Regions from separate parts of the Homo sapiens genome. Here all the other regions are linked to region 2. Evidence: fine-mapped expression QTL. A gene starts in region 2. Each other region holds a variant in brackets. All regions are shown on one strand. Distances are from middle to middle.

Region 1 (8,000 bases), 84 kb after region 2:
GAGGTGACAAAAATAACCAGAGCCTCAACTGAATCCCTTCATCCACACGACCTCACACTAATCCCTGGGGGGAGAAACCCTTGGGGAGGGGGTACGGTGCTTTTGTTTCATACAGGACTCCACTGACACTTGGAGAGGTAAAGTCCAATGTTATGTGCCCAGCACAAAGGGTGAGCTCAGAGGAGGGTTGTGTCTGACCTGGCTCCCTTTGGGGCTGTGCTGGCCAAATAAGGAGGTGTGGGGAATCAGCTCTGGGGATCTGGGGAGGGGTCACCCCTGGCTCAGGGCCATCAGGGCTCCCACAGCCACTATGCCGAGGGCTCGAGGGCCGGGCTCCTTCCAGCACTTCCCAGGGGGTGGGGGAACAACCTGTAATGGGCGGGGGGAAAGGTGTGGGGACGTGATCAGCCCCCGTGCCTGGCATGTGAGGCTCCACTGGCTCACCCCCTACCCCTGTCCCCCTTGGTCCCCGCTCTAGCCAGGGTCACCCAGCCACTTTTATGGTGTAAATGAATACGCCTCCATCCTGCGGCCCTGGGGTCCAGGCTCCAGCCCACTCCTCACCCTGTGCCCCTTTCCTGGCCCCTCCAGGAACCCAGCAGGTCTCTCTGCACCTCTGCCCTCCCCTCCAGATGATGGGAAGGCAGTAGGAGAGGGTCTGGCGCCCCCTCCATTCCAAATGGGGTGGGCTCTGGAGTCAAATGACCCAGCTGGTCTCCAGCTCTGACACTTCCTAGTTGTGTGGTCTCAGCTTCCCCATCTGTAGAATGGGTCCCTCCCTCCAAGGAAGCAGCAGCGGGGAAAGCTCCGCGCACACCAGGCCCGGGAACGCTGGGCTGTGTTGGTAAACACCCCATCCTTCTCCTCCTCCCTTGGGGATCCTCCGTGGCCCCCCGCAAGGCCTGACACCCTGCGGGGTGGCGGGCTGAGCTGCATTCACGGAGCCAACTGGGTGGGGCGCCAGGATCTCCTCCCCGGGGCAGGGGGAAGAGGGTGGGCAGGAAATTCTGGGGCTCCGCAGACCCCGGCAGGGGCACTCACCCCGGGTGTGCTGCGCGCCGCGCCTCCGCTGCTGGCTGCCCCGCTCCGCGCACGCCGGGCGGGACTCAGAACTGCACTCCCGCCAGCCCGGGACTAGGCGCCGCTCACTCCTTTCCGGGCAGGCGGGACGACGGGGAGGGGCCAGGGACGCCCCGCCCCCGGCCCAAGGCTCCACTGGAGTCCAGGAAGTCTGGGAGAGGTTGAGCCCAGGCTGTGGCCTGGCGGACGGGTCCTGAGGCGCTTAATCCCGGAGAGGAGGCCTGGAGAAAGGAGCGGATAACAGACCACTGCCAACCGCGCGCGTCTATGCTGGCCCCGATGCAGGGGCAGCTCCGCTCAGGCCCAGCTCAGGATAGGAGATGAGACCCTGCTCTCCTCTCACTTCGAGGCTTGTGCGCCTCTGGCTGATGGGACCCCAACATTCGCAGGCTCATGGGCTTGGGGTCCCCAGGATGCTCCCCCACCTCCGGGACCCCTCCCTTGGGCGGCAGTGAAACCCGCCGGTGCTTACACCTTCCTGCTCTTGACCACCCTGGAGAGGCCCCGCTCTGGCCCTTGGGTGGGTGGCTGCCCCACTCTGGGCCTGCTTCACTGGCAGCAGGACACAGGGCCAGGCCATGCTGCCTTGTTCTGCCCAGCGCCCCGCACCCAGCAGGCCCTGGGAGATACCCTGGGGCCAGAGGCCAGCTGTCAGCTCCACCTGCAGCTGCAGCCGCGGGGGGTAGAGGGGGGTGTCACTGTGACCTTGCTCCAGGTCAGCACCATGGGCGTCATCAGGTCCTAGTGCCTGGAAGCTGGGACTCACGACCGTCCAGCTGCCTGCACTTTGGACAGGCCTGGGGCATTCCCACTGGAGGCCAGGGGCCCTTCAGCTCTGGTGATCCCTAAGCCCCACACAGCGAGCACAGGCCTGTGGGGCTGCGGCAGGGGTGGACAAGTGGAGCCCCAGAGCCGGGCCTGGAAACTGAGTCACAGCCAAGCTCAGCTGTGGTTCCTCAGAAAATTGGGGGACTTGTGGTTGGGCGCCATAGGCCTGTTCTGACAGGGTCGGGGCCTGATACAACCAGACAGCCTGAGTGGGGTCTCAGCAGTAAGTGCCTGGGAGACCACGGTAAGGGAAAGAACCCAGCGGTGAGCTGGAAAGACTGACCCGCTTGGAATAGAAGTATTCAGTGCACAGCTACAGGCTCCATGCCACGCTCTGACGGCGGTTACGTCTGGGAAAAGCTAAACCGGCGGTGCTTCAGGAGTCCTGCGCCTGCCTTGTTTTTGGAAAGAACACCTGTTTTCATCAGTGGCCAAGATGAGCTGCGGGCCAGACCTGTGGACACTTCCCGGGCTCCAGGCTTCCCCTCGCCTCCTGCAGTTACTTCTCACCCCAGTGCCACAGGCTGTGGGGCCCAAGCGGGAGCCTGGCCACTTTGGCATTAGATGGCAATGCCTGGTCTAGGAAGGAGGCCCAGGTGTTAGACCTGAGAAAAGCTCCCTGGGAATGGGCTGGGAGAGGCTGGTGTTTTTGCTGCAGGCCTTCTCAGAGCCTTGAATGTCTACCATGCAGTACCTGCCAGCAGGCACACAGCAGCTGGAGCATTTCCAACACTCACTGGGCCAGGAAACTTGTTCTTTCGAAGAAGTAGCTTTTTACAAAGTAGTGCTTTGTAAAAAGCACTTTTGGAAATGATGGTAGATGGGGGGGGTCAAGGTCTCTGAACTGAGTTTTATTATGGGATGTGCCCTGCATGGCCCTGAGCAAGCCCTTTCACCTCTCGGAGCTGGTTTCCTCACTGCAAATGAAGTGAAATCCTTCCACAGTACTTAGCACAAGTTCAGGGGGGCTGCTTTTGGCCATTATATGGGCAAGGGGCTTGTGTGTGGCCCTAGGGAAACCCCACCGTGTCGCTGGGCCAGCAAAGCAGGAAGTGGTGAGCAGTGGCCGGGCCAGCACCCTGGCGTAGGGAACACAGGAAAGAGGATGTGGCTGGACGCAGGCCAGCTCAGGGCCAGCAGGGCCTGTGTCACCCTCGTGTGACTGTCACCCCAAGCAGGCTTCCTCCTACCCCCAGCAAGGATGCCCCGGCCTGAGTTTCTGCCACTTGCTGTTCTTCAGCCTGAGGTCTTGGGAGGCTCCAAGTCCTAAGCGTCTTACAAGTGGATGGCTCTTGGGAGACAGGAGGCCCAGGCCCCAGCCAGGACACCCGGGAGAGTGGGAACGGCAGGTCTGTGGTGACCTCTGGCATCGCTGGGCCTTGGGGAAGACGCCCAGGAAGAGGCAGGGTGACAGGGATGCTGCGGCCTGTGGTCTAGCCATGAGAGCCTGGTGGGGCCCTGGAGTCTACAGGAAGGCAGGGCTGGGGCAGCAGGACTCCAGAGAGCATAAAGACTAGGTGGCGACCTAGTCCAGTTGGAGGCACCACAGGCCTCAGGCAGGCCGGGAACGGCCCCACCCTGGACCACCAGAGTCAAGACAAGAGGCCGTGGGGTCGGAGTGGTTTTATTGGGCAGCAGGGGCTGCGGGCCGGTGGGGCGTCACCGATACAAGTAGTCAGCCTGGATGTTGGCGGCGATCTCGGCCTCCCACTTGTCCCCGTTGTTGAGCAACTTCTCCTTGTTGTACAGCAGCTCCTCATGGGTCTCCGTGGAGAACTCAAAGTTGGGGCCCTGCAGGTTGAGGTGCAGGGACGGTGGTTAGGCCCTGCTGAGGAGCCTCAGGCCCCCTCCCACCCGGGGGCCTCACGTGCCTCGACGATGGCATCCACGGGACAGGCCTCCTGGCAGAAGCCGCAGTAGATGCACTTGGTCATGTCGATGTCATAGCGGGTGGTCCGGCGGCTGCCATCAGCTCTTGGCTCAGCCTCGATGGTGATGGCCTGCGGGAGGGGCCACCAGACACTGCCACGCTGCCCTGTCACATCCCAGCCCCCAGGGCCCCTGTCACTGCTCATCCCCACCCCTGGGGTCTGCCAGAAGCCCTCTCCCCTCAAAGGCCTCCTGGACTCCGGCTAAGAGGCCGCCCTGCACCTCTGGTGCTCGCGCCTGTCTCCTCAGCACGTGCCCTGCTGGCGTCCCTGCCTTGCTGGTTTTTTTTTTTTTTTTTTTTTTTTTGAGATAGAGTCTCGCTCTGTCGCCAGGCTGGAGTGCAGCAGCACAATCTCGGCTCACTGCAACCTCGGCCTTCCCGGTTCAAGTGATTCTCCTGCCTCAGCCCCCTGAGTAGCTGGGACTACAAGTGTGCATCACCACGCCCAGCTAATTTTTGTATTTTTTAGTAGAGATGGGGTTTCACCATGTAGACCAGGATGGTCTCGATCTCTTGACCTTGTGATCCGCTTACCTTGGACTCCCAAAGTGCTGGGATTACAAGCGTGAGCCAC[C/T]GTGCCCGGCCTGCCTTGCCTGTTTGTCAGCTGCTGGCGTCATCTGCCAAGAACCCCCTCTCACGAGGGGGCTGTTCACCGCTTTGTTCAGTGTAGCACCCGCTGCCCTAAGGGTCTCACCCTGCGGTGAGTGCTGAGTTACAGTCCCGCCTCGCCTCACCAAGCTTTCCAGATATTTTGAGTTTTACAAATTGAAGGTTTGGGGCAACCCTGCATAAAGCAAGCTCACTGATGTCATTTTACCAACCATGTGCTTGCTTCTTATCTCTGGGTCAGCACTTTTTAGGAATAAAGTTTTTGTTGTTGTTTTTGTTTTTTGAGACAGAGTCTTGCCCTGTCACCCAGGCTGGAGTACAGTGGTGCAGCTCATAGCTCACTGCAGCCTCAACCTCCCAGGCTCAAGCGATCCTCCCACCTCAACCTCCCAAGTAACTGGGCCTACAGGGGCTAATTTTTTGTATTTTTTGTTGTTGTTGTAGAGTCGGGGTTTTGCCATGTTGCCCAGGCTGGTCTCAAACTCCTGGGCTCAAGTAATCCCCTCACCTTGACCTCCCAAAGCACTTGGACTACAGGTGTGAGCCACTGTGCCTGGCCCCTAAAGTATTTTTAATTAAGGTATATACATTGTGTTTTAGACACTTCGCAGCCTACAGTACAGTGTAAATCCTTTTTTTTTTTTTGAGACGAAGTCTTGCTCTGTGGCCCAGGATGGAGTATGGTGGTGCAATCATAGTTCACTGCAACCTCCGCCTCCCAGGTTCAAGCAATTCTCCTGCCTCAGCCTCTTGAGTAGCTGGGACTACAGGTGTGCAACCCCACACCCGGCTAATTTTTGTATTTTTACTAGAGACGGGGTTTCAACATGTTGGCCAGGCTGGTCTTGAATTCCTGACCTTGTGATCCGCCCACCTTGGCCTCCCAAAGTGCTGGGATTACAGGCGTGAGCCACCGCAACCGGCCCTAATTTTTTTTTTTTTTTTCAATTTTGGCTCACTGCAACCCCCACCTCCCGGTTCAAGTGATTATCGTGCCTCAGCCTAGCAAGTAGCTGAGATTACAGGGACCTGCCAACGTGCCCGGCTAAGTTTTGTTATTTTTAGTAGAGACGGGGTTTCACTATGTTGGCCAGGCTGGTCTCGAACTCTTGACCTCAAGTGATCCGCCCACCTCGGCTTCTCAAAGTGCTGGAATTACAGGCATGAGCCACTGTGCCCGGTCTAAATCTAACTTTTAAATGCACTGGAAAACCAAAACAGCTGTGTGACTCAGTTTACCCCGATGGTCTGGAGCCGAACCTGCAACATCGCCAAGAATGCCTACACTGTTGGGTGCAATCCTGTGCCTTAAATCTACTTCTCTCCATTTGATGGATGAGAAAAACAAGGTTCCGAGAGGTTGAGGGGCTCCCCAAAGCTACACAGCAAGTGGGGGCACAGCCCAAACTCAAGGGCACGTCCTAACTCTCAGTTCCTGGGTAGCCCGCTGGGGGAGGGGCTGGCTGGGAAAACCTTCAAATGTGCTTGGCAAGGACTCTCATATGCCCCCATCCCAGAAATGTAGTGTCCACAACTCACAGTGGGACCTGTGGCTGGCAGGCTCATCCTTTAGTGCTTATAAAGATGGAGACAATAACCTCGACCTCCTCGAGGGGTTGTGGAGATTACAGGAGAGGCTGTGAGTCACACACATGGCACAGCACCGGGTCTGTCTGTGGACAGCACTCACTGTCTGGAAGCCAAGGTTGTGACCATCGTGACTGCTGTTTGGGGACACTCCTATGCACTCTCAGTCCGTGGCTGGAGTAGAGACATCAGGGCCGCAGCTCATGGCCTGGAGGACCTGGGAGTGCTCCAGAGGACAAACTAGGATCTGGACAGGAGCCACCCGAGTCACAGAACACTGGGAGGGGTTGCTGTGCACACAGAAAGTAGCGGCGGCGGCTGCCGGGGCTCCTGCCAGGCACACACAGGGGTCTGACCAGAGCTCTGACCGAGTCATATTGTTCCCGTGCTGGCAGGCCTGGCCCCCACGGGTAAGCACGAGACCCACTAAGAGAACGGAAAGCCGGGCCTCAGGGGAGCAGCCACTGGGGAAGGGAAGCTGCAACAGGCACACAAGCAGGACTCCGGAAACGGTGGCTACATCCAGGGAGGCGTGGATGGCCTCAGGTGTCACCCCATGGCTCAGAGGCCCAGGGGTCACACCCTTGGCCAGACCCCAAGGGGGAACCTCTGTGTGTCAGGCGCCTGCCCAGGGCTGGAAGCTTCACTCTGCCAACTCACTGACTCTGTGCTCTGGTAACAAGCCCTCATCATTCCCATTCACGAGGGAAGTGGCTCAGAGGGGGAAAGGGACTTCCTGGGGACGCACATCAAGCAGGGGCTAGGGTTTGGGCCTAGGGCTGCCTGGCCTCCCTCTCCCAGTGGCAGGGGCTGGCGTGGTGGCCGGTTGGGGCAGGGGCTCACCTGGGCGGGGCAGATGGCCTCGCAGAGCTTGCAGGCAATGCAACGCTCCTCCCCGGATGGGTACCGGCGCAGCGCATGCTCCCCACGGAAGCGAGGGCTCAGCGGGCCCTTCTCGAACGGGTAGTTGATGGTGGCCGGTTCCCGGAACAGGTAGCTCAGGGTCATGCCCAGGCCTGTGGGCAGCACGGGTGTGGTGGGCAGGGGCACCCTCCTCCCCCATGCATCCGTGCCCACCCGGCACCTTCCCTGTCCCCTCATGCCCAGGACGCACCTCGGAAGAGCTCAGTCCACAGCAGGGTGCGGGCTGCCCGGTCAGTCACTGACTTCATGTCCATCTCGGGATCCTGCATGTTCACATACTCTGCAGAGAGGCGGGCAGGGAGGCCATGGCAAGAGGCCTCACACACTGTCTCCCTGGAGCCTCAGGGAGAGCAGCCTGGCCCTCACTTCCAGGTGCAACTGCTGGGCTACAAAGGGGCTGTACACTCACCACACCTCTCCCCAGCCTCAGCAAGGACCCTGGAGGCCGCCTCTGGCCTGAGCCCGTCCGTGCCTACCTCTCCCTGTGCTTGGGTGGCCATTGGAGCCCAGACGCACTTCCCTGCCCAACAGGGCTTGAAAGAGGAATCAAGGGGGGTAGGTGGGGGGCTTGAGCCTTTGCCTTCACCAGGGACTGGCAATAGGCACAGGTACCCATGGCTCACACCTGGCAACCCCCTCCCCATCACACCCAGGGAGCTCTGAGATCACACATGCTAACCTCGGCAATGATGGACCCTGCCCCTGTGAATCAGAGTCAGTCTCCATCACCATAATCATTTTAAAAGTGGAAACAGGCTCAGAGAAGAACGCCCCTGACAAAGCCAGGACTGGAACTCAGGTCTCTTCCCCTACTCCAGCAGGACCAGTCAGGAACACCTGAGGCTAGAGGCCACCCAGGTACTCACTGTAGGTGGCTGCCACTGCACTGCTGTGGAGGCTCCGGCCACCAGGAGGTCCTGCAAAAAGAAGGGCGTGACGTCATACCAGGAGACTGGACTCCCCTACCCCCAGCAAAGGCTTCTTTGGTCCTACCTGCACGTGCAGCCTGGGCCAGGGCCCGCAGCAGCATAGGCGTGGTCAG
Region 2 (8,000 bases):
CTAAGTAACTGAGATTACAGGCACATGTCACTGTGCCTGGCCAATTATTTTATTTTTTGTAGAGACAGGGTCTCACTTGTTGCCCAGGCTCATCTTGAACTCCTGGCCTCAAGCAAACCTCCCACCTTGGCCTCCCACAGTGCTGGGATTACAGGCATAAGCTACTACACCCGGCCCAAATTCTTTTCTTATACGACACTGTCTTCCCAAGCTGTGAAATGCTACAAGTGCATGCATTATTCATCTCCGAAAACCAACCACTGGCAGAGGCAACGCCATGCAATGCACTGCACGCAACCAAACGGTTACTTCTTGCATGCTATGCATTTTGCATACATTCTCTCAATCCTGGATGCTCGGGGTATTATAATCCCCATTTTATAGTTGAGGAAACCGAGGCTCAGCCCAAAGTCATAAGTTAATAATTGCTGAGCCAGGAGCTCACTGATTCATTCATTCAGCAAATACGGTCTCACTCTGTCACTCAGGCTGGAGTGCAGTGGGTGCCTTGACCTCCCAGGCTCAAGTGATGCTCCTGGCTGAGCCTCCCAAGTAGTCGGACAAGTGTAAGACACAATGCTCTGTTAATTTTTTTTTTCATTTTTAATTTTTGAGACAGTCTTTTTTTTTTTTTGAGACGGAGTCTCGCTCTGTCTCCCAGTCTGTAGTGCAGTGGCGCGATCTCGGCTCACTGCAACCTCCGCTTCCTGGGTTTTATGCCATTCTCCTGCCTCAGCCTCCCGAGTAGCTGGGACTACAGGCATGCACCACCTACGCCCGGCTAATTTTTTTTGTATTTTTAGTAGAGATGGGGTTTCACCGTGTTAGCCGGAATGGTCTCGAACTCCTGACCTTGTGATCCGCCCACCTCGGCCTCCCAAAGTGCTGGGGTTACAGGCATGAGCCACCTCGCCCGGCGAGACAGAGTCTTGTTATGTTGGCCAGGCTGGTCTCAAACTCCTGGCTCAAGTGATCCTCCTGCCTTGGCCTCCCAAAGTGCTGGGATTACAGCCATAAGCCACCATGCCTGGCCTTGAGGCAACCTCTTCCTCCCACAGGGAACTGTGATCCCATAAAAATGTCTGAGGCTTTTCCTAACAAAAGCCAGCAGATGCCAGAAAGAGTTATTTCAAATTATAGAGGGCCACTCCTTACTTTAGTGTCCCTTCCTCCTGGCCAGATTTCTGGCATTCCTTTGAGATTACCAGACTGGTGCCAGGGGACAGTGGGACAAAGGGCTTGTCACCTGGGCAGGCCATTGGCATGGCCCCACCTCCCTGTGAGCCGGTATTTTTAGAGAAAGTCCTTGGCTCCTTTATCCAAACGGCCTCCCCAGATTGAAGCCCTTGGCTTCTCAGCCTTTCAAACATCCAGTGGCCGGCCTCCGTCCCAGGGGCCTTGGTCTCTCCTACCTCCCTGCAGGTCAACTTCCAGGCCTGTCGCCACAGCAGCCTTACAAAAGTCCCCTTTCATTTTTATCCTTAAATAAGACCATTTTGCGTGGAGCAAGTTCAGCCAAGTACACACTCTAAAAGATTTTTGCGGCCGGGCGCGGTGGCTCACTCCTGTAATCCCAGCACTTTGGGAGGCCGAGGCGGGCGGATCACGAGGTCAGGAGATCGAGACCATCCTGGCTAACACGATGAAACCCCGTCTCTACTAAAAATACAAAAAAAAAAAAAAAAAAAAAAAAAAAATTAGCCAGGCGTCGTGGCGGGCGTCTGTAGTCCTAGCTACTCGGGAGGCTGAGGCAGCAGAATGGCGTGAACCCGGGAGGCGGAGGTTGCAGTGAGCCGAGATCGTGCCACTGCACTCCAGCCTGGGCGACTGAGCAAGACTCCGTCTCAAAAAAAAAACCAAAAAACATTTTTGCTTCTGGAAGACTGTGAACTCCCCACATAGAAGCATTTCCTGTGTATCAGGCACTGGATTTCCTAAGCCCCTGGCAGCCCAGGAAACCTCCTGTTTCAGCTCATGTCCCATAAAATGGGATCCATAATTTTTATATGTATCAGCACCTCACTTCTAGGAAGGACGGGAGCAGTGAGGGACATGGGGCAGTGTGTGGCAAACGGTAGCAGGGGCCCTTGCCCCTCTACCCCGGCAAAGGTGCGTTAGTCACGGTCACAAGGCTGTTTCCTGCGGGGGATGGGGAGGCAGGGGCAGCGTCCACAACGCCAGTAGCCCCGTGGCACGCACCTTTGGCCTGTGCTCTGGGCAGTTGCGGCGGCCCCATGGCGGGGATGATGCCCCTCCCTCGACGGTCCCTGGGCCTCCAGCCCTGAACTTCTAGGCCCGAGCATCCTCAGTACCACGGACAGGGAAACTGAGGCTGCGGGAGGCGTGCAGAGGGCTGGGCCCCGGTAGCCGGCGTGCAGCCGGGCCCAGCCTGGCCCACCGTGTGGCCTCGAGCCCGTCACCTCTTCCCTCCTTCAGACCTCGGTTTCTTAGTAATTCTTCGGGCTCCGCGTTGGACAGGGCGAGACGCGCCTGTGGCAGCGCTGGGAAATGTTACAAAATCACACCCACTGAGCCCCAGGAGGAGGCTGCTCGCCCAAGGTCACGCGGAGAGGGCAGTAGCCTCCAGACACGTTTCCTGCCTGCCCCTGCCAGGCCCGGCCTCTGATGTCACGGGGCTTCCGAGGGGTCCAAGGAAACTTTCAGCTCCCAAAGCCAACCCCGGGGTCCTCCGAGGCTCAGGAGCCTCCCTCGCTCGGCCCAGTCCGGCTCCGTCCCACCGCGGAGGCGCTCTCCCGGCGCCCCCCGCGCCTCGCTCCCCTCTCCCCCTTCCCTGCGACCGCCGGGGCGCCCCCTCGACGCCCCGCCCCCTTCGCCCAGGCCCCGCTCACGGAGGCCGCAGCGCTCTGGGTTGGGGGCGGCGCCGCAGCCAATGGGGAGGCGGTGTGGCGAGGGCGGCGGCGGTTATGATGCGCCGGGCCGGCGGACGGCGGCCAATCAGTGGCGAGCGCGAGGGCGGGCTGTGACGCGGCCGGCGCTCCTCGTGCGGCGGCGGCAGAGGAGCGAGTGCAGCGGCCAGCAGCACATCCCCGCTCCACAGTCGCCGCAGTCGCCGCAGCCGCCGCCGCCGCCCCGCGCGCCCAACCGCCGCGGCCCCCTGCCCCGCCGGCCTGCCAGTGAGAGAGCGGCGAGGGGGCGCCCGGCCGGACTCTGAGCCTAGTCCTCTCGCGCTGCGGCCGCCCGCGCCTCCTCGGCCGCCTGTCGGGCATGAAAACCAAATTCTGCACCGGGGGCGAGGCGGAGCCCTCGCCGCTCGGGCTGCTGCTGAGCTGCGGTAGCGGCAGCGCGGCCCCGGCGCCCGGCGTGGGGCAGCAGCGCGACGCCGCCAGCGACCTCGAGTCCAAGCAGCTGGGCGGCCAACAGCCGCCGCTCGCGCTGCCCCCTCCGCCGCCGCTGCCGCTGCCGCTGCCGCTGCCCCAGCCCCCGCCGCCGCAGCCGCCCGCAGACGAGCAGCCGGAGCCCCGGACGCGGCGCAGGGCCTATCTGTGGTGCAAGGAGTTCCTGCCCGGCGCCTGGCGGGGCCTCCGCGAGGACGAGTTCCACATCAGTGTCATCAGGTCGGTGGCGCCGGGTCTGGGGGCCGCGGGACAGTCAGGTGACGCGGGGCGGGGCCGGGGCGGGGTCCGGGCAGGGGGCGTGGGCCGGGGGGGTCGGGGGCCGGGGGAGCCGGGGCCGGGGCGGAGGCCGGGGACCGGGGACCGCAGCCGGCGAAAGCCCTCCTTCTCCCAGCCCTGGGTAATCCAAGGGAAGCGGGTTCGCGGCCGCCGCAGGCCGTCCACAAACAGGCTTTTGTAAAAACGTCGGTTTCATGAGAAAACGGGTCTGTTCTAGGAGAACAATACCGTTCCATCACGAAGTGCGTGTGGTACTGACGCTTAAGATAGGTCTAGAAAGTCTCTGCGGTTTAGGGCCTTGAATGAAGGTGTTGTGGCTGGCTTTAAAAACACAAACCACTTTTTAACTTTTTTCTGTTAGTTTTTCGAGTTCGCGATTTGATGTCTTGTTCCCTCTCCAAGAGTCATTGTTAGTGGAGGAGTAGCATTTTCTCATCCCCTAAGAGACATCACTATAGCTGTGTTACTAGACAAAGGTGGGAGGCGTGGCTCCTAAAATAAGAGTAAGGTAGAAATGTTTTTTCCTTTTTTTTTTTTTTTTGAGACGGAGTTTCGCTCTTGGTCCCCAGGCTGGAGTGCAGTGGCGCGACCTCGGCTCACTGCAACCACGGCCTCCCGTGTTCAAGCGATTCTCCTTGCCTCAGCCTCCCGAGTAGCTGGGATTACAGACACACGCCACCACGCCCGGCTAATTTTGTATTTTTAGTAGAGACAAGGTTTCTCCATGTTCGTTAGGCTGATCTTGAACTCCCGACCTCAGGTGATCCACCCGCTTCGACCTCCCAAAATGTTGGGATTACAGGCATGAGCCACCGCGCTCGGCCATTTTTTCCTTTTTTTAAACTTGAAAATATTTAATCTTAAATTTGAATTACAGAAGTACGCGTGTAGGTATTCAGACTTAACAGAAGTCTGACCTTCTTTCACCACTCTGCTCCGAAGACATAACCATTCAACGTAGTGTGTGCATCCTTCTATTGAGACCTTTAAAGATGTGTTCCCGGGCCGGGCGCAGTGGCTCACGCCTGTAATCCCAGCACTTTGGGAGGCCAAGGTGGGCGGGTCACGAGGTCGGGAGATCGAGACCAGCCTGGCCAACATGGTGAAACCCCATATCTACTAAAAATACAAAAATTAGCTGGGCATGGTGGCGCACACCTGTAGTCCCAGCTACTTGGGAGGCTGAGGCAGGAGAATCGCTTGAACCTGGGAGGCGGCGGTTGCAGTGAGCCGAGATCACGCCACTGCACTCCAGCCTTTGACAGAGAGAGACTGTCTCAAAAAAACAAAAACAAAGAACGTGTTCCGTCATTTTCTGCCAATTTTCTTTTAATTGGCTGACAGGTTGTGTGCAGTATCTAGAAATTTGCTGGCTGGCTGCCACCAGTAATCCCCAAGTCCAGTTTTGGTCATTTGATTCCTTTTCTGTGCCCACTGTCTTTCACCAGAGCCGCTAATGCAGCAAAATTAACTCTTTGAGCTTCACTTCCTCTTTGTGCTTCAGCCCCTCTGACTGCTTATGAGCTAAGAGTGAGAGTTAATAGGCAGTTGGTAAGGAAGCAGAGAAAAGAAAACCGAGGCTGTTTAGATAATCCCTGAATTGCTTAATGGCACTTAAAAAAAATTCAGCTCTCTCCAAGGTTTACTTTAATCTACTTTTAGTTAGGCCTGAAAATTCTCAACTAGAAGGGCGATCATTTTAGGCCATGTACTCATCAGTCTGTGAAATGGAAAACCTAAAGGAGAAGTGACTTGCCTGAGGTCAGTGGCTGTTTACTGCCTTCAAAGCCTGAACTGCCAGGTCTCTGGTGTCCCCTTCTCCTGCACCAGTGCTCTAGCCTGCGGCCTGTGAAAATGTTTGGACACCCTAGATCCAGCCTTAAGATATTTTCATGGCTTTCTCCAGGGAGAGTCACTCAGCAGTTAAACTTTTGCATTTTGCTCAAACCAGTTATTAGGAAAGCATTGAGGATGTCTTGTTTCTTTTCTCCAGGAGTTAGCAGTCTTGGAAAACACAGCTTTCCTTTTGGATTGGATGACCTTTTTACATAATGTTGCAAGAGTACACTCTCTCAGTCCTGTGTTCTGAAAGAGAACGTAGTTATGGAATAAGTTTAATAAGGAGAAAAAAAGGTGATTTAGGACATGGGAAAGTGGGTGATGTCTAGCTTTTAAAAAAGACACAAGGGCATTTGGAGGTGCGGAGAAGGAGAGGAATTCGTCTGGTTGAAATTCAGTGATTCTCCATAGGCAGTTGCAGTTATTATGGCTCCAGCTATCAAATTTTACTGACATTTCCCAATCTGATTCTGGTTTTTGGTTTTTTTTTGGAGACAGGGTTTCACTCTGTCGCGCAGGCTGGAGTGCAGTGGTGTGATCACAGCTCACTGTAGCCTCGACTTCCCAGGCTCTGGTGATCCTCCCACCTCAGCCTCTCAAGTAGCTGGGACTACAGGCACGCACCACCATTACTGGCTAATTTTTGTATTTTTGTAGAGATGGGGTTTCGCCATGTTGCCCAGGCTGGTCTTGAACTCCTGAGCTCAAGCAGTCCTTCCGCTTCAGCCTCCCAAAGTGCCAGGATTTTAGACCTGAGCCACCATACCTGGCCCCGATCCGTTTCTGGAGCTCCGTGTTTCACTGAGTGCCAGTGCATCTGCAGTAGTTGATGAGACTTCACCACCTCAACTCAGTGCATTCCTATTCCAAATTTAACCCTTTGGCTCCTCCCCACCCAGGAATGTGCTTCTGCTTTCGCTCTGCGTTTGTAGCAGCAGCCTGGCCAGAGCCCCAGGATCATTTCTAACTCTGCATTCCCCCAGAAATCCCTCCTCTGCACACAGTTGTAACTCAAACCTGATGAGCTACTTTTGTATCCCCACCTTCTGTCTGGTCCCTTTGCTGTCCTTGCTTAGACACTAGAACAGGAGGTGCCTTAGGATCTTCTTGCATTTTGTGTGTTCCTTCTAATCCATTCTGTATCTTGTTGCTATGGATTTCTCAAATATTGGAAAATAAAATCCAAACTTGTTTGCATGGTCTAAACTTGAGCCTTGGCCTACCTTTTTATTTTTTATTTTTAAATTTATTTTTTGAGATGGAGTCTTGCTCTGTCACCCAGGCTGGTGTGATCTCGGCTAGCTGCAACTTCTGCCTCCTGGGTTCGAGCGATTCTTGTGCCTCAGCCTCCCGAGTAGCTGGGACTACAGATGCACCACCACATCCGGCTAATTTTTGTATTTTTGGTAGAGATAGGGTTTCACCATATTGACCAGGCTGGTCTCGAACTCCTGACCTCAGGTGTTCCACCCTCCTTGGCCTCCCAAAGTGCTGGGATTACAGGCGTTAGCCACTGCACCCTGCCCGGCCTAACTTTTTAGACTGGTTCTTTTTGTTATTACTGTTTTAAAATCACTCCTTCTCCAGAACCACAGCAACTAACATTGAGCTAGTTACACTGGAGCCTGCATTTTCTGAATGAGCTTTGTGTTTTCAGTTTCCAGGCCTTTCTTTGCCCCTACCCTCTGCTTGGCAGCCTTTCCCTTGGTGTGTTTCCTTTAAAATTCCTCTTTCAAGGCTTAACTCAGAGAGAACCAGACATACTGAATTTCTTTCCCCTCTGTGTCTCATCCTTAGCACTTTGTACATGCAGGCCTTGTTATCACAACCCTTAACACGTTTGTGTGTGTGTTTATTCATTCCATTCTCTTGTTAGATTGAATTCCTAGAGGGCATTTCACGTTCATCTTTGTATCTCCAGCACTAGGATAGTGCCTGGCACACCGGAACTGGATAAGTGTAGAAATTGTCATTTTTAGCTTAAGTTGGCCTCTTTGCTGTGTGATGAACGGAGATCCTTGTCTGAGTCTCTTCAACTATGAGTGGTATAGGGAAAAATAAAAATTGTCCTAACATGAGAGTTGTTGTTAATGAGCTGACCACTTAGAAAATTTGTTCATTTCCAGACATCACAACTTAATACTAACTTCTGTCCCTGCCTATCAAATCAATAGTATGTTATTAGCATTTTCTTTCTTTCTTTCTTTTTTTTTTTTTAAGACAGTCTTGCTCTGTTGCCCAGGCGGGAGCACAATGGCGCGATCTCGGCTCACTGCAACCTCTGCCTCCCAGGTTCAAGCGATTCTCCTGCCTCGGCCTCCCGAGTAGCTGGGATTACAGTCACATGCCATGTCCAGCTAAATTTTTTTTTTTTGGTATCTTTAGTAGATACAAGGTTTCACATGTTGGCCAGGCTGGTCTTGAACTCCTGACCTCATGATCCGCCTGCTTTGGCCTCCCATAGTGCTGGGATTACAGGCATGAGCCACCACGCCTGGCTACCTGGCTAATTTTTGTATTTTTTGGTAG
Region 3 (8,000 bases), 29 kb before region 2:
AGACCGCTGGAACCAGTGTGAGGCCCTGAGCAGCTGGGGCCCAGTGTGGCAGGAGTGAAGGTGCACTTCCGTGTTGTTTGAGCACCTAGTACGTTCTTGGGGTTTGGAGCAGGGAACAAGATTTGAATCTTCAATGTGGGGTAAAATCAAAGCCATGAGAGTGGGTGTCTTGGTCTCTTTGTACTGCTATCACAATATCACAGACTGGGCAATTTAGAACCAATAGACGTTTGTTTGGTTCATGGTTCTGGAGGCTGGGAAGTTCAAGATGGAGGGGCCGATTCTGGCGAGGAAGACCTTTCTGCTGCATCGTCCCGTGCTGCAGAGAGGGGAAGGGGCTTGACTTCTATTGGGAGCCCACTCCCACGATAATGGCATTAATCCATTCATTCATGAGGCAGGGCCTTCATGACCGAATTGCCTCTTAGACCCCACTTCTCAACACACTGTTGCACTGGGGGCTGAGTTTCCAGCATGAACCTGGGGCCATGCTCAGACCACAGCAGTGAGCTAGCCTAGGGAGCTGGCTGAGGGCAGCCCCTGCACCCACCCTCACTGAGGCCTGGGGGCGGCAGGAAAGGCTGCTCCCCCGCTGTTGGTCCTCGACTTCGGAGAGCTGAGCTTAGGTCAGTGCTTCAAGGAAGAGCCGGATGGGTTGAGAGGGTGGAGGCAAAGTTTGTGAAGGAGGAACGAGAGAGGATGACCACTGGGAAGGGAGGAGGTTCATTTCATTAATAGGAGACCCAAGTTGAATCTTGGAGGCGGGGAGCTTGCATAGTAAGTGTGTTCTGAGAAAGAAAGTGAAGGAGTTACTTGGAGTAGGGCCTCAGGGGGGTCTTCAGAGAGTAGATCCGTCTTCCTTCCAGGAGGAAAAGAGGATTTGGGATGTGGTGAGGGAGCCAGTCCAGAGTGAGGTTTTCTCTTGTCTGGTAAGTAGGAGGCAGATGAGAGTGAAGACAGGAGGGCCAGGAGGTTTGAGGAGTAAGAAGGAGGTTTGAAATTGAGAATGGGAAAGCATGCTGACTGTAGAAACCTAGTTATCATTCATTAAAGAAATATCTACTCATCACTTTCAAGGTACCAGGTCAGTGTCCTGAGCCCAGGCTGGTGGCCAGCACTTCCCTGCACAGGTGTGAGCCTCTCAGGCACACGTGGGCCTTTACCCAGGTGGAGACCACAGAAGACAGCAGGGCTGGGGGCCCTAGGGTTCAGGTTGGCAGGAGAAGGGGTTGCATGAGAAGCCGTGCATACCTGCAGGTTAGGGAAGAAAAGGCAAGTCTGTGAGCTGAGTGGGTCACTAGACAGGTGAAGGTGGAGGTGTTTGAATCCTGGAGGCTCCCTGTGGGCAGAGGACTGCCAAGCATTGGAGCAGTAAGCAAGTGTGGAGGGCAGGCGGAGAACAGGCGCTCAGAGCTCTGGAGGGGCCACACTTTCCTGTGAGAACAAGGTCCTAGTCGGGACCCTGGTAGTGGAGTGGTCACAGTTGTGAGAAATCATGGCATGGGTCACCCAAGAGGATGGCAGACAACCTTCATGGTGGGCCTCCAGTGGACTTCCAGTGAGTGCAGGCTTCTGGGGCTCAGGGAACAAAGCAACATGCCTTGGGGGGCTACCACACTCCATACAGGGAGCCATACAGAAACTGGGCCTGTGGGGAAACGAACGGGGAATACCCCACTCAGGGTGGTGGTGCTCTGGGGCCTTAATAAACAAGGAAATCGGCCTGCCTGAGATTGTGCAGCTGGTGGCAAGTGACAGAGGCAGACATTAACCCCAGGCTCCAAGGCACCAGCTTGTTTTTTGTTTTTGTTTTGTTTTTTTGAGACAGGGTTTCACTCTGTCACCCGGGCTGGAGTACGGTGGTGTGACCATGCCTCACTGTAGCCTTGACCTCCCAGACCTGAGCAATCCTCCTGCCTCAGCCTCCTGCTGAGTAGCTGGAACAACAGGTGCGCACCACCATGCCCCACTAATTTTTTTACTTTTTGTAGAAACGGGCTTCTCCCTATATTGCCCAGGCTCATCTCAAATATCTAGAGAGCACAGGTAAGGACCACAGAGCTGCCAGTGTTCCAGAGACCCCCAGCCCCAGCTGCGCAGCCCCACCTTTGCCAGGGTGATTCTGAAAGTCTCTGTCTCCTCGGCATTCCTGTGGGTCTACTTGGGAGGCTGAGGCTGGAGGATCACTTGAGCCCAGGAGTCCAGCCTGGGCAACATAGCAAGACCGATCCATCTCTTTAAAAGAAAAAAAAGGCCGGGCACGGTGGCTCACGCCTGTAATCCCAGCACTTTGGGAGGCCGAGGCAGGCAGATCATGAGGTCAGGAGATCGAGACCAAACTGGCTAACACGGTGAAACCCTGTCTCTACTAAAAATACAAAAAATTAGCCAGGTGTGGTGGCACACGCCTGCAGTCCCAGCTACTTGGGAGGCTGAGGCAGGAGAATCGCTTGAACTTGGGAGGCGGAGGTTCCAGTGAGCCGAGATCACGCCACTGCACTCCAGCCTGGTGACAGAGCGAGACTCTGTCTCAAAAAAAAAAAAAAAAAAAAAAGAATCCCTATGGGCGAAAAATAGGAATCATTGCTTTCTACCCACTTTCCATGCAGTTATGTGGGGCCAGGAGAAGTCTGTCTAAAGATTATGCCCCAGATAAGTGGGGTGATCCACGCCCACTGTCAAATATGCTTAGGGAGCTTGAAAAGTGGGAGAGGTGCCACTGCCCAAAGCACGGGCTCCTAGGAAGCCACAGGTGTTTGCTGGCCCTCAGGCACTCCATGGGGGCAGGCCTCTTGTTATCTGAAAGGGTGAGTCAAACTGGAGGGGAGCGGAGCATGCCTAGAGACAGCAAAGGAAGTCCGAGGTTTCCTCCAGCCAGGCAGGCTGCTGGACTTGACGATTAGTGTTTTTTTCGTTTTGTTTTGTTTTTCCTGTCTTTCTTTCTTTTTTTTTTTTTTTTGAGACAAGGTCTTGCTTTGTTGCCCAAGATTGGAGTGCAGTGGTGAAATCTTGGCTCACTGCAGCCTCGACCTCCTGGGTTCAGGCGATCCTCCCACCTCAGTCTCCCAAGTAGCTGGGACCACAGGCACAGACCACCACACCCAGCTAATTTTCTGTATTTTTAGTAGAGATGGGGGTGGGGGCCGGGGTCTCACCATGTTCCCTAGGCTGGTCTTGAACTCGTGACCTCAAGTGATCCACCCACCTCGGCCTCTCAAACTTCTGGGATTACAGGTGTGAGCCAGCATGCCCAGCCTGGACTTGGTGATTTTAATAGCGACTTGACAGAAATGTCATCCGGGGCAAAGGAATAACTGCATTTGATGAGGAGAAGGTTTCTTGTGTTATTCTCTAAATTATTACTGTGATTCCCCTCAGGACAAGTGTTTTCTCTCATGGGGCAGAGGCTGGAAGCTATAATTACATGAATGGGAAGCAGGGTTCTATTTACCGAAAGGCAATTTACATCTCATAAGCACGTCTGCAAAGCACGTTACACTTTTGCCACTCTTCATGAGTGTGGTTACTCCCTGAGCAGCAGGCCGGGGT[C/T]AGGTAATTTTGATTTCATCACACCAGCCTCAGTGGGGATGGCAAGTTGAGCACTGATAGAACGTGACTGGAAGCTACAGGCCAGGAGTCTTGGACTTAGCTGTTCTCCAGAGTGACTCTTCTTTTTCCTTTTTTTTTTTTTTTTTTTTTTTGAGACAGAGTCTCACTCTGTCGCCCAGGCTGGAGTGCAGTGGCACGATCTTGGCTCATTGCAACCTCCACCTCCTGGGTTCAAGCGATTCTCATGCCTCAACCTCCCGAGTAGCTGGAATTACAGGCGCCTGCCACTACACCCGGCTAATTTTTATGCTTTTAGTAGAGAAAGGGTTTCACCGTGTTGGCCAGGCTGGTCTCAAACTCCTGACCTCAAGTGATCCACCCACCTTGGCCTCTCAAAGTGCTGGGATTACAGGTGTGAGCCACTGCGCCCGGCCCAGAGTGACTCTTCTATACACAAAACTCTAATTTCCTCCTCTTGCTAGTCAAACCATGTTTTTCTTCTGCGGTAAGCGGCAAGCTGGGGAGGCTGAGCTAGGTGTGGTGGCACATGACTGTCATCCAAGTGGACCAGAGTTGACTCAGGCACCCACTTGGCCTGGGGCAAGGTTGGGGGGCACCTGCCCTGCCTCACTTGTTCCCAAACCTCAGATTTGTAACTTGTAAAGCAGAGGGAGTGAAAGCGCTCTGGGTTTGTTGAGGATTCAGCAGGAGAGTGCCCATCGTGCCCTTCACATGGGTCTGGCACCCAAGTCAGTTGGTACCCGTGTCCTGCCTCAACAGTCTGTGGGTGCACCCCAGACACCTCATGCGCCCTGCTCTGCCCCTAACCTCTGCCCTCCTCAGCTGACACCTGCTCAAACTGCCTTCATTACAACCTTCTCCAGCTCAGCTGCGTACTCAGACGATCCTGGATCCCGGTTCTATTTTCCCCTGGCTGATGCCCCTCTGTCAGTCAGGCCGCCTCTGTTTACCCGAAACCTCCGCTCCACCCCCGGGCCTCTCCTCCTTCCAAGGCAGTCTCTCTGCAGTCAGCTGCTCCCCTGACAGCCTTCCCTATTTGAGTGCCGAATAACGGCTGGTCACTCAAAAGGCACAGGGGATATGGGGGTGATTGAAACCCACTCCTTTCCCTCCAGGGAAACACACACGAACATCAGTAAAATGTGGTAATTGCCAGGATGCATGTGTGGAAGAAGCGTGGCAGGAGGACCAAGGAGAGTGCCCCCTGTTTCTGCTGGGGAACCAAGCAAAGCAGGCTTCATGGAGGAGGTAAAATTAAGAAGGGTCCTGAGAGATGAATAGGAGTTCATAAGCCCAAAGGGCAGAGGCGGTGGACACCTGCAAAGTCCTGGAGACATGGAAGGACAGGGTGTCTTATGGAAAGGAGGGTGAGAAGTTCAGCGTGGCCAGTCCAGAAAGTTTAAAAGGGGATGATAGCTGGCCGGACGTGGTGGCTCATGCCTATAATCCCAGCACTTTGGGAGGCTGAGGCGGGTAGGAGATCGAGACCATCCTGGCTAACATGGTGAAACCCTGTCTCTACTAAAAATACAAAAAATTTGCCAGGCGTGGTGGCGGCCGCCTGTAGTCCCAGCTCCTCAGGAGGCTGAGGCAAGAGAATGGTGTGAACCCGGCAGGCGGAGCTTACAGTGAGCCCAGATCGTGTACTCCAGCCTGGGCGACAAAGCGAGACTCCACCTCAAAAAACAAAAAAAAGGGATGATAGCTGAGGACCATTGACCTTAGGAGATGGGGGCATCTGCCTCTAGGTGAGGGCCCTGATCAGCACCCTAGGGGCACATTCTGTCTTCACCACCTCCTGATTTTGCAGCGTCTCCTATCTGAGCCTTAGTTTCTGCTCTGTAAAATGGAGATGATAATAGTACCCAACTCACTAAGGATGAAATAAAACAGCAAAAGATGCGTGAGCACCACGTCGGGTGCGTGGTAAGCATTCGGTAACTGTTAGCAGCTTTTGTTATTTCCTGGAATCTAATAGCAAAGCCTGTACTTTTCTACTGGCTTCAACTAATCAGCCCCAGCCCCAGCCCAGCCCTCCAACTTCCTCCTGGCCCCCAGCCCCAAGTGTGGCCCAACCATTCCAGGGCTGGGTGTCTTCCCAGAGCAGAGAGATCCAGGCCTCCCACTGTACAGAGAGGCAGGGACAGTGACTTGCTTGGGGACACACAGTGAGCAGGAGCAGGGGTAGCCCGGGCTTGAACCCAGGGCAGTAGCTGCCCTTCCCTGACTGTTGGCTGTGGCAGGCAGTGCCCCGGAAGGGCTGCTCTGGGCTTTGAGCCAGCAGCAGCCCAGCCAGCAAGGAGGTGGCCGCTATTGACAGATGATAACACGTGTTTGTTTAGCTAGAGCCACTCACCAAAGGGGCGTTCAACTCCCTGCAGCAGGGAGCTGAGCTTGAGGCCAGAGTCTTTCTGCCCTTCCTCACTGACACCCACAAGGGCTGCTCTGGCCTTAGAGATCGCCTGGCTGGAAACTCACAACTGTGTGTCTCCTGGATGTTTGGGAACATGAAAATCCAACAAGGTTCCACATCGCTGCTCCTGGGCGGAGTAGCCCGAGGCTCCAAGTGGGACAGCAGTCCCCAGTGTCCCCCAGCCTACCAGCTCTACCACATGGGGTGCTCCAGGCTGGGGACCCCTGGGAGGCCCTGAGGAGTGGTGGCTTGAAGAAGTGGGGGTGCTGCTGGTCGGTGGTCTCAGCGCTCCCCTGGGTTATGAAGGTCTTTGCACTTGCTTCTCCCTCTGCCTGGGACCCCCTCTTTGCCCCACCCGCTCAGGTCTCTTTGTAGATGTCACCTCCCAAATCTTCCCTCACCCCTCACTGCCATCCCGGGGCTTCCCTCCCCTTAGCCCTGAGCCCTCCAGCCACATGGAGTCCTTGGAGCCAATGTCAGGCTGATGGGGAAGGAGCTTCTTCTCTGGGAAAGCAGCCCCCAGAGACTCCAGCCTCCATAATGCGGCAGGATTCAGGTCACCCTGAAGTCAAAACCTCAGGTTGCCAGCCGCTGTCAGAGCCCCTGGGCCAGTCCAGACCCCTCCCACCTGCGGAAGCATGGAGCCCAGGAGGCCATGTTGGGCAAACAGGCTGTGCCCAGACAGTGCCCCAAGACCAACTCATCACACCCAGTGAGTCCTGGCAGAGAAGGAGCCAGAAGCCGGGGACAGAGCTTTCTCTGGGTTGGGCAAACGACGTGGTGTGAGGTCTGAGCAGCGTCTGGCTTCAACCTGCTGCTGCCACAGGCTGTGTGCCAAGAGAGGTCAGGGGACTGGCAAGAAACGAACTGTCCTCGGGCTGGCCCTCTGCCTACTTCCTGGTATAGAACACCCCGCCCCGGGGGTTCCCACGCGGCCCTGAGGGCTGGGCCCCAACAGCACAAAGCTCAAAAACCCAGCCTCCCAAGGCGGGCGGATCACCTGAGGTCAGGAGTTCAAGACCAGCCTGCCCAACATGGCAAAACCCCGTCTCTACTAAAAATACAAAAAATTTGCTGAGTGTGGTGGTGGGCACCTGTAATCCCAGCTACTTGGGAGGCTGAGGCAGGAGAATCACTTGAACCCAGGAGGCGGAGGTTGCAGTGAGCCAAGATCGCGCCATTGCACTCCAGCCTGGGTGACAGAGTGAGACTTCGTCTCAAAAAAAAACACAAAATACCAGCCTCATCCAGCTTAAAGGGCCAGCCTCCCCCGACTGCCTTTGCACAGCCAAGAAATACAGAGAGGGAAACTGAGGCTCAGTGACGGGCCAAGCGTGTGTGTCAGGCAGGGGCAGAGCTGGCACGAGGCCCCATCTCTCCTCCAGACGAGAAGGGAAAGTGTGCTTTGGTCGGGGAGTAGTGCTGCAGGCTCAAAAGAAGGAATGAGAGAGAGAGGCTCAGGGTGCCCACTGACGGGCCTGGTAGGGAGATGGGGCCTGATGCGGCCCCATCCTGAAGCTGCCCCTCCCACCCCCAGTGGGGCAGCCAGGTTAGCACGTGACCCCTTGGCTGGCAGACACGCAGAACAGGGCTGTCCTGGAGATGAGCCAGGTGTGACCCATACCCCCATACCAGACAGCATTCTGGGCATTGAGTCACAGACCTGAGGTTCCCAGTCATTAGGTCAGGTGAACAGACTGCAGTAAGGGTGACAGCGTGTTACTGACCACATGGCTTCCAAAGGCCGTGGTGTCAGCCGGGTTCAGAGGGGTCCTGTTGAGAGAAGCTGACCTTGGACTCTGGCCTCCAGAAGCTGCAAAGGACTGGCCTCTTTCCCTCCTCCAGCTTCAGCCACCCCCAGACCAAGGCACTAGACGGTCCAGCTCCTACAGCCACAGCACCCTGGGGCTGTCTTCAGGGAAACTCACCCCAAGATTCCATGCATTCATTCACTCACTCATTCATTTATGCTCTGTTTGCTGAGCCTCCACTCTGTACCATGATCTACACGGGGCAC
Region 4 (8,000 bases), 67 kb after region 2:
GTTGCTGTGAGCAGGAAACACATAAAAACCAAAGTGCTTTTTCCCATTCCTTTCATCAGCAACAATCATCACCACAGAAGACTAAAGTGACCACGTCAGGGGTGGTTCTCCCCGCCAACAAACAAGTAATCAGTTCTGGAGTGGACACCAGATGGGTGCCCTCCAATTCCATTACGACACTGTCTACGTGGGGACAGAGTCAGACCCCACAGGTTGAGGGTTGAGACCTTAAGACTGCCCCCCACTTCCAACACCAGTTGCAAGTCCAGGCCTCTGGAATTTCTGACCAACTAGCCATATATTGGAGTTCCCACGTTCCCCTCGGGTTCAATTAATTTGCTAGAGCAGCTCACAGAACTCAGGGAAACACGTAAGTTTACCAGTGTATTACTTTTTTTTTTTTAAGACAGGGTCTCACTGTGTTGCCCAGGCTGGTCTCCAACTTCTGGGCTCAAGCGATCCTCTTGTCTCAACCTTCCAAGTAGCTGGGACTACAGACATTCCGCCACCATGCCTAGCTAACAAAGGGTATTTTAAGGGTGAAGAGATAAATAGGTGGGGTGAGGTCTGAAAGGATTCCCAGCACAGGAGCTTCTGTCCCTGTGGGTGGGTTGGGGAACTCATTCTTGTTCACCTTCCTGTCAGCCTCCACATTCAGTTCTCTAGAAACTCCCCAAACCCTGTCCTCTTGGGCATTTTATGGAGATGTCATTGGATAGGCATGATTGAAATGTGGACAACCGTGTTGAAATGTGATTGGACAAAAAAGGTGTGATCTAAACCTAGCAAGACCTGACCAGGTTCTTCGGGCTTCTCTGTACAGCATTCCTTATCCCAGGGTATGGTGCAGGACCCCCTCTGGAATAAGAGTCTTATGACCCACAGTCAGATTAGAGTCTAGCTTTGGGCAGGTGAAAGGACGGCAGAAGGTCAGAGAGAGAGATTCTGTTTACTGTAGTAAGGGCTATGGGAGTTATGAGCCAGGGACCCTGGACAAAAACACACATATATGTCATCACAGTTGGACTTTATCAAAATGAGTAACTCTGAACGATATCATGGAGAAAATGAAAAGGCAAGCCACAGACTGGGAGGAAATACTACAAATGTATATTTAATAAAGGACTCATATTTAGGATATATAAAGAACTCATAACTCAGCCAGAAACCAAACAGCCTGCTTCATTATTATTATTTTGAGATGGAGTTTCGCTCTTGTTGCGCAGGCTGGAGTTCAATGGTGCGATCTCGGCTCACCACAACCTCTGCCTTCTGGGTTCAAACGACTCTCCTGCCTCAGCCTCCCAAGTAGCTGGGATTACAGGAGCCCACCACCATGCCTGGCTAATTTTTTTTTTTTTTTAAGTAGAGACGGGGTTTCTTTGTGTTGGTCAGGCTGGTCTCGAACTCCTGACCTCAGGTGATCCACCCGCCTTGGCCTCCCAAAGTGCTAGGATTACAGGCATGAGCCACCGCGCCCGGCCTCAGCCTGCTTTATAAATGGATGGAAGATTTGGACACTTAAGAGAAACACATGGCCAGTAAGAATCTTTTCATGTGTTTTGTATAATTAGTCATTAAAGAAATGTGAATCAAAGCCTCATTGCGATACCCTACACACCCACAGTGATGGCTAAAACTTGAAAGAACTGACGGTCCCAAATGGCGAGCACATGGAGCAATGGGAATGCGCATGCGCTGCTGCTGGGAATGCAGTCGCGACAGCCAGTGTGAAGATGGGTTAGACCACCCAGCAGCCCTCCTGGGGAATTTTTCCAGAACAAATGAAAACAAATTCCACACCAAGACTTGCACTCAAACACTCATAGCAGCTTCATTTGTTTGTCTGTTTTTGAGACAGAGTCTCACTCTGTTGCCCAGGCAGGAGGAGTACAGTGGCCCGATCTTGGCTCACTGCAACCTCCGCCTCCCGGGTTCAAGCAATTCTCCTGCCTCAGCCTCTTGAGTAGCTGGGATTACAGGCGCCCGCCACCGCACCCAGCTAATTTTTTATTTTTAGTAGAGGGGGTTTCGCCGTGTTGACCAGTCTGGTCTCAAACTCCTGACCTCAAGTGATCCGTCTGCCTTGGCCTTCCAAAGTGTTGGGATTACAGGTGTGAGCCACCTCGCCCGGTCTGCACCTTCATTTATAATCGTCCCAAACTGGAAGCAGCCTAAATGCCAGTCAGCAGGTGTGTGGATACGACAGTGCCAGATCCGTGTACTGAGAACACTCGGCAGTGCAAAAGGAAGGTGGCACCAGTGCATGACAGCACAGGCCACTCAGAGACAGCACGCTGAGTGAGAAGCCAGACACGAGGCTGCATATTGTATAGTGGCATTTATGTGCTACTCTAGGAAAGAAAAGTCCAGTCCATAGTGACAGATATTGAGTCGGTGGCTGCCTGTGGCCAACTGCAAGAGGCCCATGGGAGCTTGTAGGGATGCTGGAAACACAGGTCTCCTGACTGCGGTGGTGGAGAACTGGCTGGATGCATCTGTGAAGGCCCTCAACTGGACACTTAAAATGGGCTCATGCTTGTAGAGTAGAAATTACAGCTCAGTTAATTTTTCAAAAAAGTTAATTGTAATCTTCCTGGCTTCTAGAATTGCAGACTTTTAGATTAGGAGTGGGTCTTTGAGATTGTGTTGTCCTCACACAACACAATCCCAGAAAAATAGTGGCAGAAACAGAACACCAAGCCGGGTTTTCTCCCTTGCCTCTCAGTGTCCTTCTTAAAAGTCATGCTGCAGGAGATCCCGGGAAATAGGCGATGGGCATCCTCTTCTCCCCTTCTGTTCTAGACTCGCCTGTGTCCCAGGGGTCTTTTGCTCTAAAAGGTGTGTTATGTCGGTCAGTCAGTGCCCACAGCACCCAGGGTTAGCAAGGTGATGAATGGTAGCAGTGCTAAGCATGTGGATGAGACGTTCATCCTGAGAGGCAGGGCTGGGCTGGCCCATGCCTATAAACCAGGCCTCCTGAGAATGAAGGTGTGTGGGGTGGGCTGGGAGCTTGAGGAGCCTGCACCTGTAGAGCAGCGAGGCCCCCGAGCAGCCCTGCTGCACAGGCCAGTCCTGTGCTTTTGGTCTCATGGGTCCGTGCCCTCAGCTCTTGCCTGGGGTGGGGATTGGGGGACACATGGGCAGGGTTCAGGCCAGCAGGATTCCTTGCTGAGGCCTTCTCTTTGCTGTCTCCTAGGACTACGCCCAAGCAAGGTTTGATGCCTATTTCCACCAGAAGAGGAAGCTTGGGGTGTGACTGTGGGGAGGACTCCATCCACCTCATCACTGGACTGCATGGGGAGGCAGCAGAGCGGGGTCCCCTCTGTGCTTCGACTACTGCTCCTGTGGCAGGAGGCTTTGGGTGGCTCACTACTGAACACATGTGTATGATACTAAAGACGGTATTAAAATGGAGCGACGTTTATTTCATCTCTTGTTTACGATTTCACTAGGACTCAGAAACGAGATCGGGAAGCAGAAATATAGTGCAATAGTGCAACATCTCTGAATCCTTTTAATCTAGAGAAGGCATTTCATATTTGGGGGCTAAGGTTTCCAGTCAGATGAGGCAAACAGCAAGAGTAAGCAGTGTTACTTGCAGGTACTTTGGTTAATGTTGATTTAAATTTTCATGAATGTGCTGGTGAACACTGTGACCAGGCTTTTGTAGATGGCGATGTGTTATAGACGGTGCTCACTCCCAAGGGACAGCAAGTGAGCAGAGATGTACTGCAAAGTCGCCAGTCACTGCTGCAAGGTGGCCTCTGCCTGGGGCCTCCAGAAGCTGCTCCTTTACCCTCTTGGTCCCATGGCTGAAGCTGGAGCAGCGGATTGCTCTGGAGCAGCCAAGGCCGCCAGCGTGTGGAGCAGAGCTCTCCCCTCCTGCTGGGCGTGTGTGACACTGATGAGTTTCACTGTACTGCATGTGACTTCTCCCCTGCCCTTCCTCCTGATGGAGTGTGCAGACAGCCATGCGTGGCCACGGGGGCAGTGTGAGGACCTCCCTGTCTCCCGGCTCCCCTCCCAGGGGAGCCAGCTGCTTGACCTAGCTCTTTGGGCCTCTCCTGCCCTCTGCTCTGCCTGGAGTGTCGGATCCTGTGAGTAGGCTGGGCCTCCCCTGGGCAGGGTTCTCCAAGGGCCCGGTTTCCCGGCCCTTACCTTTCCTGATGCCCCTGACATCATCATTCTTGTGGGAGACAGCAGCCTGTATGTGGTGTGGGGCGTGGATCGAGTGTAGCTGTGAAATCCATATATATGAAATGTCCTGCGGGATACAGTCTTAGCTGACTTTTTTTTACTCTGAACTCTTA[T/C]TTGAATTGTTTTTTGTGCATATATTTCTGCTACCACAGAGATTGTACTATACAAATAAAAAAATAAAAACCCAACCTCAAGCTGTCACCCTTGGATGTGTCCTGAATCTCAGGCAGGGCTCCTGGTACCTGAAGGAGCCCACGGAGGGCTCCATCTGCACCCACTCAGCCCCTTAGCTTAGCAGTGCTCCGCTGCTCTCAGCTGGCATCCCAGCAGCATGTGGCCCCATCATCAGCCCTCCTCCACCTCCTCCTCTTCTTCCCCAGCACACTCTGGTTTCCCTGCTTCTAGCCCAGAAGCGAAGAGCCCTGGAGGACGTTGGAGACTGGGAGCAGTGCTGGTGCCTGGGGATGCTGAGCGGCTGGGCAGGAGGGAGGCTTTTGCTGTTCAGCCTTCTAGAGAGTTACAGTTTTAAGCAGGTGAAGCCAAACTGAATGAAGCAGTAAAGGTGTTGCGCTCCTGCACAGGAGCTCCAGTGGCTTCTCACTCACCGTCTTCCTGTGCCCAGGCCACTGCTGGCCTCACTCAGCCCTCGCCTCTGCCTGGTCCACACGAGCTCGCTTGCAGTCTCCTCGCAGAGATACATGTGGAGCCGATCTTCCAATACTGGGCTCCTTCACTTTGCCCCACTGTCAGCTCAGTCACAGTCTCAGGCCTTCCTATTCTACCCAGGACACTGCCATTCCCTAAACCACCCTGGGCCCGGCCCTGGCCCATCGTTTCTCTCCATGCAGCTTAACTTTCCTGGAGCCCCTGGTGGTCTCTACATCAGGCCATAAGCTCACGTGGACAAGGATGGGCTCGGGCCTGTGCTGTTCAGTGCCCAGTCCTCCACGCAGGTGACCCACCCCATCCCTATGTCTCCCTATGTCCATGCCCCAGAGGTGCCCACCCCAGTGCCTTATGTGCCATTCTCTTGGCAAACTGGACTTCTCTAGCCACCACTGCCAGGCACCCCCATGTCAAAGCCAGGGCGGGGCTGACTGGTCATGTCCCTGGGATCCCACACTGCACCCCTCCTAAATCACACTGGGGCCACTCACCACGAGTGCTGCTCACCTATCCCCACCTCACTGCCCGCCCCAAGTCTCTGCCCAGCTCTCTCCCCAGGAGGGAGTAAGGCGTTGGGTTCTGGATTTGGTCCAGATCCACCTGCAGCTCTCCGGAGTCCTTCATTTAGCCTTCTCTGCTCCTACCCCAGCACTGTGAGCACCGTTTCTCTAAGCTGAATCTGCTGGGCATGTGGAATTACCTTAGAGCCCCTGATACGACCCCTGGCATCCAGAGGTCCTGAGCAAAGCAGTCCAGGAGCCAATGGACAGGCTCCTCCCAGCAGCTGGCCTCAGCCACAGCTGTGGGAAGAACCACTTTGCAGCTTGTTGGCTTCTGGGAAGCACTTCCTCTGCCTCCCAGTGGGGGTGGGACCCAGGCCAGAGGGAACTGCAGAAAGCCACCCCCATTCTGCCAGCAACGCAGGAAGGACCACCTGGGAGGGATCAGGAAGACTGTAGTCTCAGGTGAGGGGAGGCTGGGCCTGGAGTCAGGCTCAGCCCCTGTTCTGAACCCCGGGGTCCTGGGTAATGTCTGCTGCTGGGGACAGCCTCTACCCTTCCTGGCAGGTGTGTGGCCTTGGGCGTGTGACACCATGGCCCTGCATGGAGCACTGGCCGGGGCTCAGGTGCCCCACACTGCTCTGTACTTCCAGACCCCTGAGGCCCGGCACCAGGGCATGGATATTGGCACCACTCCCAACAGAGAGTAACCCAGACACCCGCTCACAGCCAGGTGCACACCTCCAAGGATGGGGAGCTCACTCCCCTGACCCGGCCTGGGAAGACATTTGCTCACTCCAAGTTAGAATGTGCTGGAAACATCTCTCCTTGGCCCTTTTCTGCCCCTTTTCACCCCAAGAGTCTGACATTATTGCAGATCTGCTCAGGTCCAGGCCTTGACTTTTGAGGTCCCAGATCCTACACCATGCCTTCTACCCTGCCACCTGCCTCAGCTAAAAAGGAGGGAAGAGAGACGAGACATCACTGCCAGGGCGGACCGTCTTTATTCCTCTCCTGCCTCAGAGGTCAGGAAGGAGGTCTGGCAGGACCTGCAGTGGGCCCTAGTCATCTGTGGCAGCGAAGGTGAAGGGACTCAGCTTGTAGCCCGTGCCTGAGTAGAACTTGTTCTGGAATTCCACCCTGGGGGTGAGAAGCAGAGGGGTTGGTGAGGGGAACTCACGCCTTGAGCAGCCCAGGCCAGTGGGTGGTCGCTCACCAGTGCAGCCGCAGGGCGTGCAGGAAGGCTGAGAGTCCCTCCATCACCAGCAGGATAGCCACGGTCATCACGGCAAAGGCGGCAAAGATGGGGACCAGCACCACAGCCGCCACGCCCACCTCCCGGCCCAGGCCCAGGCCTATGCGCATCACCATGGCCCACAGAACCTCGGACAGCTCTGCAAGCAAAGGAGACAGTGGGGGCCAACGGCAAGTGGGTGCCTGCCAGCCCCCTACCTACCTGCCGCAGCCTGAAGCCCTCCCTGCACGGGGGGCCAGCGAGGGACCTCCTTGGACAGTCCCACTTTACAGAGGGGAAACTGAGGCCCAGAGAGAAGCAACCCGCCCAGCCAGCAGCGGTATGTGAGAAGCCAGGAGCTGGGGCCAGCCGTCGGTGGCCAGGTCACTCACGGGCGTGGGCCAGGCTCAGGGCCCACAGGCGCAGGTAGGAGGCGGTGTTGGAGACGCAGCCCAGGCAGAACTCGATGGTGTGGATGGCCTGGTGCATGAGCACCTCGGAGGGGACGAGCTGCGGGGCGGGTGCAGTGAGGGCCGGCAGGGCCTCAGCCGTCCCACCCCCAGGAAGGCACTGCACCCACCTCGGCCTCCTCTTCATCATCCAGGCCCCCTGCCTTTTCCTCATCGGAGCTCCAGCCATTCACAGATGCGTCAGGCAGGTCCAGCAACCCGGCCTTGTTTTCCTCCTGGGGCATGAGCAGGCAGTGTTGGCAGCACTCCAGCCCCAGGAGGTCCCCCACCACCCGCCAGGCCTGCTCCTGGCCACTCAGGAGTCTGTCAGGAAGCGAGGAGTCAGGGACACACCGGACAGTGGCCTCTCCCCGCAAGCAGCCCCCCACACCTTAGGCCCCGGTCCCACCTGTCGGTCAGCGGGCCTCCTCCGCAGGCGGCGGCGGTGGCGGTGCAGCAGGTGCAGGGGTGTGCCAAGCAGCAGGATGGGCACCATGGCCAAGGCCAGGACCACCAGCGTGGCCTGGACCACCTCCTGCCAGGGAGAGGGCGAGAGTCAGGGCGTCCCTGCTGTGCACACCTGCAAAGGAACCTGAGTCACAGCAGTCACGGGGCCCAGAGAGCCTGCGGTCGCTCCTCCCTCCAGGGCCCCCGGGGGCTCCGTGCCCTCACTGGGTGAGGGTCTGCCTCCATAAGGACTCCTGAGGGAAGGGACCCCCGGTTCCCAGTGCCAGTTGTGCCACCTGCTAAAGATGCACACCATCACCTCTGACGGCCCTGTCTGCACGGCCCGGGGCCTGCATCCCCGTTTCTCGGACGAGGATCTTGCAGCTCCCAGTGGCCCTGTGACCGCGGGGTCCCCATGAGGCCGTGTGAGCCCGGCCCCCACCAGCCGCAGCCCACCTGCCGGGGGTAGAGCAGCCTGTTGCTGGGGCTGTGGGAGAAGAGGAA

Evidence for each region.
Region 1: its variant is fine-mapped to the expression of CHKA in whole blood (INTERVAL, PIP 0.95).
Region 3: its variant is fine-mapped to the expression of CHKA in whole blood (TOPMed, PIP above 0.99).
Region 4: its variant is fine-mapped to the expression of CHKA in whole blood (INTERVAL, PIP 0.94).

What each region holds. Positions count from the first base shown.
Region 1 is chr11:68,032,161-68,040,160 of GRCh38, reverse strand. It overlaps NDUFS8 (NADH:ubiquinone oxidoreductase core subunit S8), which reads right to left. Exons shown (of 7, transcript NM_002496.4): 2 at 7,952-8,000; 3 at 7,825-7,875; 4 at 7,149-7,238; 5 at 6,878-7,050; 6 at 3,780-3,908; 7 at 3,517-3,699. The coding sequence ends at 3,568. It overlaps TCIRG1 (T cell immune regulator 1, ATPase H+ transporting V0 subunit a3), which reads right to left and starts at 1,136. Exons shown (of 20, transcript NM_006019.4): 1 at 1,042-1,136. MIR7113 (microRNA 7113) reads right to left here and starts at 7,297; the gene lies at 7,239-7,297. It overlaps MIR4691 (microRNA 4691), which reads right to left and starts at 6,264; the gene lies at 6,180-6,264. RefSeq lists silencers at 945-1,024, 1,085-1,264 and an enhancer at 1,156-1,777. The variant C/T (reference allele first, on the strand shown) is at 4,413.
Region 2 is chr11:68,116,403-68,124,402 of GRCh38, reverse strand. CHKA (choline kinase alpha) reads left to right here and starts at 3,015. Exons shown (of 12, transcript NM_001277.3): 1 at 3,015-3,575. The coding sequence starts at 3,226. CHKA-DT (CHKA divergent transcript) reads right to left here and starts at 2,515. Exons shown (of 4, transcript NR_183630.1): 1 at 2,200-2,515. RefSeq lists silencers at 2,161-2,260, 2,611-3,040, 3,611-3,740 and enhancers at 1,510-2,276, 2,277-3,042, 3,891-4,020, 4,161-4,290, 4,716-5,232 and 1 more.
Region 3 is chr11:68,145,113-68,153,112 of GRCh38, reverse strand. No RefSeq gene overlaps it. Among named protein-coding and RNA genes, the nearest start is that of CHKA-DT, 27 kb to the right of the region's middle. The variant C/T (reference allele first, on the strand shown) is at 3,550.
Region 4 is chr11:68,049,247-68,057,246 of GRCh38, reverse strand. It overlaps TCIRG1 (T cell immune regulator 1, ATPase H+ transporting V0 subunit a3), which reads right to left. Exons shown (of 20, transcript NM_006019.4): 15 at 7,953-8,000; 16 at 7,459-7,584; 17 at 7,181-7,285; 18 at 6,993-7,110; 19 at 6,583-6,760; 20 at 6,352-6,506. The coding sequence ends at 6,428. It overlaps CHKA (choline kinase alpha), which reads left to right. Exons shown (of 12, transcript NM_001277.3): 12 at 3,200-4,388. The coding sequence ends at 3,259. Among named protein-coding and RNA genes, the nearest start is that of MIR6753, 8.5 kb to the right of the region's middle. RefSeq lists an enhancer at 6,326-7,318. The variant T/C (reference allele first, on the strand shown) is at 4,314.